Regions from separate parts of the Homo sapiens genome. Here region 1 is linked to region 2. The links come from fine-mapping of genetic effects on gene expression. A gene starts in region 2. The other region holds a variant in brackets. All regions are shown on one strand. Distances are from middle to middle. Region 1 overlaps PEDS1-UBE2V1 (PEDS1-UBE2V1 readthrough). Region 2 holds the start of PELATON (plaque enriched lncRNA in atherosclerotic and inflammatory bowel macrophage regulation).

Region 1 (4,382 bases), 140 kb before region 2:
CCACCCCCTGCAGGGCCGCAGGCAAGCTCAGGTGCTGCCCTGGGCTTCAGGCTTTCCTCCTGCTCAGGAAGCAGGCGTAATGGTGTAATAGGATAATGGCATAAGCATGGCAATGGCTGGGAATGTAGACCGGAGTCAGCTGGAGCTGGGTTCCGATCTCTGCCGACATTTCTTGGCAGTATGGGCTGGATCGGTGACTCTGCCTCTAAGAAGCTTAATTTCCCCATCAGGAAAATGGGAATGATGCCTTCACCCAGGTTCCCTAGAAGCGGAGCCTGAAACAGGTTCTTGTGCATGTGATTTATCAAGGGAGCCTCTTCAGGAAAAAACCTCGAAGGGAGGGAGGGAAGCAAGACACGGCAGGGGAAGAGCAGAGCAAAGATGGGGTGGGTGGCGTCCTGTCTCAGTCTGTTCCTGCAAGGAGCTCTGAGGTGTTAACGGCTCTTTAGAATTAGACCCACTCAGAGGCAAAGGGACTAGCGTCGGAGGCGTTTCAGTCACTGGCTCCAGCCTTATCCCAAGGAGACAGGTGGGACCTCCCCTCCATCCCTGGAGAAGCTGGGAGCTGTCAGCAGCCACCACTCACAGAAGCAGGGGCTGGGTGCACCCCCAGGGAAGGGGATGGGCAGGGTGCCATAGCACCCACTACACTACACGTCCTCACCACCTCTACCCACCGGAGGCTGCCTGAAGAACAAATGGGTGTTAAGGTGCTGGAACAGGACCGGGCCCCAACCTACCTCCACCTGACAGATAAGGCAACTGAGGCTCAGAGTGGTGAAATCACTTACTTTGGGACCAGTCCCTCTAAAAATAGGCAGGCCCTGTTTTCACAGCCTAGACATTTTCCACTAGGCCACGGTAGCAAAACCCCAGAAGCCCTGCCAGGCAGGTAACACAAATGAACAAGGTGGGTTGGGTGCAGGGAAGCAAGGAATAGTGGGGACGGTGGTAAACTGGAAAGACGCGTCCTGTCAAAGGCAGTGGCTGCAGCTCAGCTCCCACCCAGTGAGGCCAGGTGGGAACATGGACCCAGGGGGGCCAGAGCAGATTGTGCAAGAGAAGCTGGAAACCTCCATCTTCATGTCAGGTTTCCTGATTTTACATGAAGACAATGAATGAAAACTCTTTTAAAATACCATAAGGAGCCAAACACATAAGCCCCAGAAGGCTCCTGGGGGTCGGCCTCTGCCCCCAAGGCCCCCTCCCAGCCCACCACTAGCTGGGTGTCTCACCAGGGCTGTGGGTGCGGAACTTGTAGGCCATGTTTAGCAGCGGCAGCAGTGTCACCAGGCAGTTGTCCCCGTTGGTCTCGATGAAGTCGTGCCGTGTGATAGCTGTCGGGTCAATGTGGTGCTCCCGGAAGGGTCGGATGAAAGCCTGGAGTTGAGGGGGACACAGCCCCAGCAGTCAGCCTAAGGTGGTCAGCTGCTCTCCACAGCCCCCTAAACACATTCACCCTGGGCTCACCTCCCGCCTTTGATCCTAAGTTTCCTCCACCCGGGATGCTTGAACATTCCCACCTGGCCCACTGCCAGACACAGACCCCATCCAGCCTTTGGGGAGATGAGCCGAAATGACCCTGGAAGGGCTTTGGGTTGGCACTGTCTGCCTCTGGGCCTCAGTCTCCCTACCTGTGCTGTAAGGGGGCTTGGAGACAACCTCCGCCCTTCCTCCCCACCCCAAGGCAGTTGAGGAGGTCCCTCTAAGTAAAAGGTGGGACCCTCTGGACCCCCTGCACCTGCTGGGGTAACAGCCTCCCCTCCTTAGTCCAGGCTCTTCTGACAAGGCTGACCTCGCCCCGGGCTGAGAAAGAACACGTGACCAGGCCTGGCCAATCATAGCATCTCCTCCCTCTAGCCAGTGACTGCCTGAGGGCCCAGCACGTGACCCAATCTGGGCCAATGGGAGTGAGCCGTGGGACTTCAGTTGGCGGAAACTACAGGGAAGGAGAAATGCTGTTCTCCTGGAAGGAGAAGGACAGTTCTCTTTTCTTGGGAGCTGGAAGGATGGATCTCTGGGCGGTGAGAAAGCACACTGGCCACCTTATGAGGGGAAAGTAGAGATAGAGATGGAAGAAGACTGGGCCTGAAGAATGTGGTCTGTC[G/A]GTCCTACTGGATGCAGCCATTCCTTAATTTGGCTCTAACCCTGAAATCTTCAGTTACATGAATCAGTACCCTTGTTTGCCTAAGCCAGTTTAGATTTTCTGTCAAAACCAAAAAAGTGACTAATACAGGATAAAATGCAGTTAAAACAGCAAGAAGCAGCAGGGGAGACAATGGAAAAGCAAGACACCCCCAAATTCAGGGGTTCTGATGAGGCAGGCACATATCTAAACTCTTGGACCATCCCAAGCCTGATGCTTTTGCTTCCAAAATCCCAAGGGACTCCTGTTCTAGTCTTGCAGCACAGGGGTGAGGGACAGGCTGCAATGATGGTTCCCATCTTTCAGATAGGGAAACAGTCTTAGAGAAGAAAGGGGACTCACTCAAGGCCATACAGCCCAACCTCCTTCTTGAGGACATGGTTAGGTCAACATACTCACCTTCCCCACAATGGGCAGCTCCACAGAGCCCCATGTGTCAGCACCCCAGTGTACCAGGCCAGACAAGAAGTCAGCAATGAGAGCCCCTGCAACTGTGGACAAGAGGGTGAGTGAAGGGACATCCCTGCACCCCCCCAATCAGAATCACTCATTCATTTACTCACTTGCCCGCTCATTCATTTGTTAGGAGGGGAAGGTGTCCCTTCTTCTCTAGTTGGGATGTTTTCTTCCCTGAAGATGGAGCCTCAGGCTTAACACTCCTCCTGCCTGTTACTTGCTGTGCTCGGGGAGATGCCAAGACTCATGTGCTTGGAGAGTCTGGAGAGCATAAACTGGGCATGCTCAGATCAGCTCAACCTTTCCCTATTAGGAGCAGGCTGTGCCCTTCTCTCTGCCCCATATAAGGAAAGCCTGCTCTGCACCAGTGCTGCCTGGAACTGCAGCAATGTCCTTCTGGGTTTGGTGTTAGAAAGAAAGTACCTCGGCCAGGTGCGGTGGCTCATGCTTTGTAATCCCAGCACTTTGGGAGGCTGAGGCAGGCGGATCACTTGAGGTCAGGAGTTCGAGAATAGCCTGACCAATATGGTGAAACCCCGTCTCTACTAAAATCACAAAAATTAGCCAGGTGTGGTGGCATGCGCCTGTAGTCTCAACTACTCGGGAAGCTGAGGCAGGAGAATCACTTGAACTCGGGAGGCGGAGGTTGCAGTGAGCTGAGATCACACCACTGCACTCCAGCGTGGGTGACAGAGTGAGACTCCGTCTCAAAAAAAAAAAAAGAAAGTACCTTACCTGCAGATAGAAGCCTCGCTGCTCCACCCCCACCCCTCCAGCTTTTATCAGCAATAAACATGATCATTTGGTCTCCAGCAGCCTTTTCCTTGTTTCTGTTCTCAATCTGTTCGGAACTTGAGCAGGGTTCCCTCAGACTCCAACACCATTCACTCACTTGAGGGTTCAGTAGATTTGGACTCAAATTCCAGTGCTGGCACTCACTAGCTGTGACGCTGCACATGTTATTTAGCCTCTCTGTGCCCAGTTTCCTCTTGTAAAATGGGAATGATGCGACTGGGCGCCGTGGCTCACACCTGTAATCCCAGCACTTTGGGAGGCCGAGGTGGGCGGATCACCTGAGGTCAGGAGTTCGAGACTAGCCTGGCCAACATGGTGAAACCCCATCTGTACTAAAAATACAAAAATTAGCCGGGTGTGGTGGCACACACCTATAATCCCAGCTACTCAGGAGGCTGAAGCAGGAGAATGGCTTGAGCCCGGGAGATGGTGGTTGCAGTGAGTCGAGATCATGCACTGCACTCCTGCCTGGCCAACAGAGTGAGACTCTGTCTTGAAAAAATAAATAAATAAAAGGGAATGATGCTAACATTTACGAGCACTTTCTCAATGCCAAGCACAAATGCTTTACAGGCTAGATCTTGATGAATTCTCACCATTTGTTTTAAGTTGGTAGCTTTTTTATTCCCACTTTATAGAGGTGGAAACTGAGGCTTCCACCCCTGCTGCCTCCCATCACTCTCCTCTTTCGCTGCAGCCCAGGCCTACTTTATCTCCTTTCCCTTGCATGCCTCTGGGTCTTTGCATTTGCTGTTCCCTCTGCCTGGAACATTCTTTCCTAAGATGCAACACAGCTCACTCCCTCACCTCTTCAGATGTTTACTCAAATGTCCTCCCTGGACACCTGATGGAAAATTGCAACCACCTCATCTTCCAGCATTTCCGATCTCCTATGTATATTGTTCTCCAAGCACTCGGCACCTCTGACTGCTCTTGTGCTGGTTTATTTTCTCCCCCAACAAGGAGGTTGGCTCCACCATGGCCA
Region 2 (4,382 bases):
TGTCTGGGCAGAAGGAAGAGCTGGAGCAAAGGCCTGGAGGCTGGAGAGCGCTGTCGGGGGGCAAGTGGGGCAGTGTCCCACTGCGGGGTTTCATCTCAGCTCTGCCATGTCTTGGCTACGTGACCTCTGACACCCTACTGGGCCTCTTTGATCCCAGACTCACCTGTAGAATGGGTGTGTGAGAAGAAAACCTTCTGGAGCGGGGTGTTGAGGAGAGAACAGTGCCTGACACATCATAATAATAATGCTGAATAGATGTTATTTTCATTCCTAACCACTTCCTCCAGGAAGCCCATCCTGACCTCTAGCTCCCAAAGTCACCTGGACTTCCTCCATCACAGACCTTGCCACAGTGTGAGAAACTGCCTCATCCACACACCAGCTTCTCACCTCCACCCAGACCCTCTGATTGGGACTCCCCTGAAGACTGTGTCCCCAGAGCCCAGAAAGAGTCCAGCACAGAGCAGCTGAGGGGGCAGGTGCTGGTGAACAGTGTCAATGAGCCCCTGCTACTCACCAAGCCCTTCACACACGGGTCCTTCATTTAATGTCTTTCTTCTCCTAGATAGAACCTTGGCTTTGCCAAGACCGGTATAGTTGCTGCTCAAGAAATATGTGAGGAAATTGTTGAGATGAACCAGCACTCAGGGGAAGGGAGGCTTTCTGAGGCTGGGGCCTTAGCAGGTGGAGCTCCTGGGATAATAATAATAAGAAAGATGCCTGGACGCGGTGACTCACACCTGGAATCCCAGCAATTTGGGAGGCTAAGGCAGGCAGATCACTTCAGGCCAGGAGTTCAAGACCAGCCTGGTCAACATGGTGAAACCTGGTCTCTACTAAAAATACAAAAAATTAGCTGGGCCTGGTGGTGTGAGCCTATAGTCCTAGCTTCTCGGGAGGCTGAGGCTGGAGGGTCAATGATTGAACCTGGGAGGTGGAGCTTGTAGTGAGCCGAGATCGCGCCACTGCCACTGCACTCCAGGCTGGGCAACACAGTGAGACTCTGCCTCCAAAAAGAAAGACAACAATAATCATTAGTCTTTACTCTGCTCCAGGCACCAGGCTGAGTCTTCTCAGTTCATCTCCCCAGCAGATTAGTTCTATTATTGTTTCCATTTCACAGATGGGAAAATCAAGGCACAGGGAGGGGAGGTGGCTTACTCCAGGTCACACAGTTAGTGAGAGGCAGAGGCAGGATCAAAGCCAAGCCTGTTTGACTGAGGAGCCCGCCCCGAGACCTTAACCACACAACCCCTCCCTAGAAGGAAGGTGCCACTACTGGACACATTTTGGAGATGGAAACCAAGGCTAAGAGAGTCAGGATGGCCTGCCCATGTCTGGACACAGAAACTGAGGTTAAGCAGGAGATGCCCGAGGCGGGGTCCCTGTCTCCTAGGCCAGCACCCTGAAGAAGGGGTGGGAGACAACCCCCCACCCCCCAAGCTGTCCCCTGCTTGTTGGAGTTTCTGGTCAATACCCTGGCCTCTGTTACCCAGCCCAGCACCCAAGACGCTGCCTCTTCCGCCTGCCTGGAGTCTCGGGTGCCTTCACAATCGGATTCTCTGTCTCTGCAGCTGCTTTCCATTTGAGCCCTTTGTGCTGAAAATAAAAAAAATGAAAAGAAAACTTGGCACCACCCCTCTGCTTTGCTTCCTGGGGAGGAAGGAGGATCCCAGCTACTTCTTTCCCTCATTCTGGGGCCCAGAGATACCCACAGCCTGCCCGAGGTCACACAGCAGGGTTGGAGCCGGGACCCTGGCCTTAGACTCCCCTTCCAGTGCTCTACCCACTCTGGCCACTGCCTCTGATGTTCCTGGCTCTTCCTCTAGGCCCGTGAGGAGCAGAGAAATTAGGATGAATGTTCCCGAGCCCTACCACATGCTGGGCACTCTGCCATCCTGGGCTCACGAAACCCTCATGACAGCCCTGTGAGGTCCCGTCATCCCATTTAACCAACAAGGAAGCTGAGGCTCAGAGAGGGGAAGCGCCCAAGGTCACACAGCTGGGATGTGGCAGAGCTGGGGTTCCAGCTCCTGTTCCCATTGCTGGACAGCTGCCACATCTGGCACCCAATTTAGGACCCCGCGGGGAGGCCCAAGCCCCGGGGGTGGCGGGGGATCCTAGAGGAAAGTGGCAAGGCCAGGACCCTGGAGCAGAGCCAGGTAGGAACAATGGGTTCTCAGAGACCAAGGTGGCAGGGCGGGGCGGCTGCTGAGCAGGGGCGGCAGGGCGAGGTGGCGGGCGGGGCCCAGGAGACTTCATGCTCCCGCCTCCTACTCCAGCTCCCTGTTTGGGATCTGGGGACGCTCCAAGCACCTCAGCTTCTCAACCTGGACAGACCCACGGCTCCAGCAGGAGGCAGGGCCAGCCCTGTGTATAACCATAAATATAATGGGCAATAATCAGATTTCACGCTTACCGAGCCCTACTACAGGCCAGACACTGGGTCAAGGGTCCTTCCTGGGTCATCACAATCAGCCTAGGAGGTGCAATTAGGATTAGTGGCTTTTTACAGATGCGGAAACAGAGGTCCAGGGAGCTACTCAGCACCTGCTGTGCCAGGACAAAGAACTTTGGGAAGTGGGGCCCTCAGAGGGTGGGTACCCTGTTCCCAGAGGCAGGAAAGTTGAGGTGGACTGGACTCAGTGGGGCTCAGTGGGACACCGTGGGGAGTCAGTGCTCTCTGGGGGCGAGATGAATTAGAGGGAGCCCTTTTGGTTTTTTAGAATCTGAACATGGGGCGGGGGAAGCAGAGATGTGGGGAGCAGATGAAGCCTCCCTGGCACTGCTGGGAGGATTAAAGGACTTGATGGACACCCAGGGCTTGGAAATGTACCTGGTAGAGAGTAGGTGCTCAGGGAACAACTCCTGTTTGCAGAAACAGCAACTCACACTTAGGGAGCCTGCTGTGCATCTGAACCCCGTGCTTGGGTGTTTCTGACCCCCTTCCAGCTCTCATCCCTCCTCTCTCCATTTTCTCCCCTGTCTCAGGTTCATTCCTATGTTTCCTCTTGCCCCAATTAGGCCATCTTCTATGACTGCAACAGTAAAAATATTAATTAAATCTTATAACATGAAGTCTAACGTGGGGCCATTCCAGTGTTCCAGGGCAGGCTCCCTGCGCTCTAGGTAGGCATCTCTTCACTTCTCTTTCTTCATGGGCCCCAGTGCCTGCTGTGGCTCAAGACATCACGTCCCACATGATCACATCCTAACTAGGAAGAGATGAACAGAAAAGGGGACTTTCTCCTCCAGGATCTCACTTTTTTTTTTTTTTTTTTTTTTGAGACAGAGTCTTGCTCTGTTGCCCAGGCTGGAGTGCAATGGCACGATCTCGGCTTACTGCAACCTCCGCCTCCTGGGTTCAAGCGATTCTCCTACCTCAGCCTCCCACATAGCTGGGATTACAGGCGTGGGCCACCACTCCCAGCTAATTTTTTGTATTTTTAGTAGAGATGAATTTTCACCATGTTGGCCAGGCTGGTCTCAAACTCCTGACTTCAGGTGATCCACCCACCTCAGCCTCCCAAAAGTGCTAGGATTACAGGCGTGAGCCACCGTGCCCAGCCAACAATTTTTCTTACATGTCCCAGTGGATGTCCCCTGGTGTCTCATGGAATGATGGGCTCACATGTCCACATTTGAACCAGAAAGGAATTCCCGTGGCTGACTCAGGCCAATTAGGGTTCAGCCTGTCTGGCTGCTCCAAAGAGATGTGGGCTCCGAAGGTGATGGGGGCACGGCTGGGCTGGCCACCAGCTGGAGTCTCACTGACGGCCTAAGTGGCACAGTGGGCCTGGGTTTGCTCGGCCTTCTCTGGCTGGTCCTCTTGGCAGCGTCTGCCCCCTGGGTAACTGCCCCCTCCTTGAGCACAGTCTTCCCCAGCCTCTTGATGGCGGCTTGCTGGTCTCGCTGGTTCTCCTCTTACTTCCCTGCCCGTTCCTCCTTGGGCCTTGAAAACGACCCCTCTCCTGCCTTCATCTGACCCTTGCCCCGTGAGCTCAGCTGTGCGGGGTCCCTCGTGCCTTTATGCGGGCTCTGTCAGTCTGTCCATGGGTGTCCCAGGGGCGCACCCCACTGGGAGACATGGATGTCTTTCCCAGCTGAGAAGACAGCACTGCCACCCACCCAGTGGGCCAGGCCTCAGACCCCAGAGTTGTCCTTAACTCCTCTCTCTCTAACCCCAACATTCAATCCTCAGCAAATTCCATCGGCTCTGCCTGTGGACTGAATCCAGAACTCGACAAGTCTTCCCTCCTCTGTCTGGTCATTGCTCGCCTGCCTGGGCAGAATCTCCGCCCTGGACTCCCCACCCACCCCACACAGCCCTCCACACTCAGCCAGAGGGCTCCTGTTGGAACCCAAGTCAGGTCACACCATTG

The links. PIP is the estimated chance that this variant, and not a neighbour inherited with it, causes the effect. A credible set is the group of variants that fine-mapping cannot tell apart.
Region 1: its variant is the best candidate, but not a certain one, in a credible set for the expression of PELATON in subcutaneous fat (GTEx, PIP 0.58).

What each region holds. Positions count from the first base shown.
Region 1 is chr20:50,128,311-50,132,692 of GRCh38, forward strand. It overlaps PEDS1-UBE2V1 (PEDS1-UBE2V1 readthrough), which reads right to left. Exons shown (of 8, transcript NM_199203.3): 3 at 2,546-2,637; 4 at 1,236-1,380. PEDS1 (plasmanylethanolamine desaturase 1) reads right to left here. Exons shown (of 6, transcript NM_199129.4): 3 at 2,546-2,637; 4 at 1,236-1,380. Among named protein-coding and RNA genes, the nearest start is that of UBE2V1, 17 kb to the left of the region's middle. The variant G/A (reference allele first, on the strand shown) is at 2,108.
Region 2 is chr20:50,265,502-50,269,883 of GRCh38, forward strand. It overlaps PELATON (plaque enriched lncRNA in atherosclerotic and inflammatory bowel macrophage regulation), which reads left to right and starts at 1,977. Exons shown (of 4, transcript NR_170992.1): 1 at 1,977-2,162.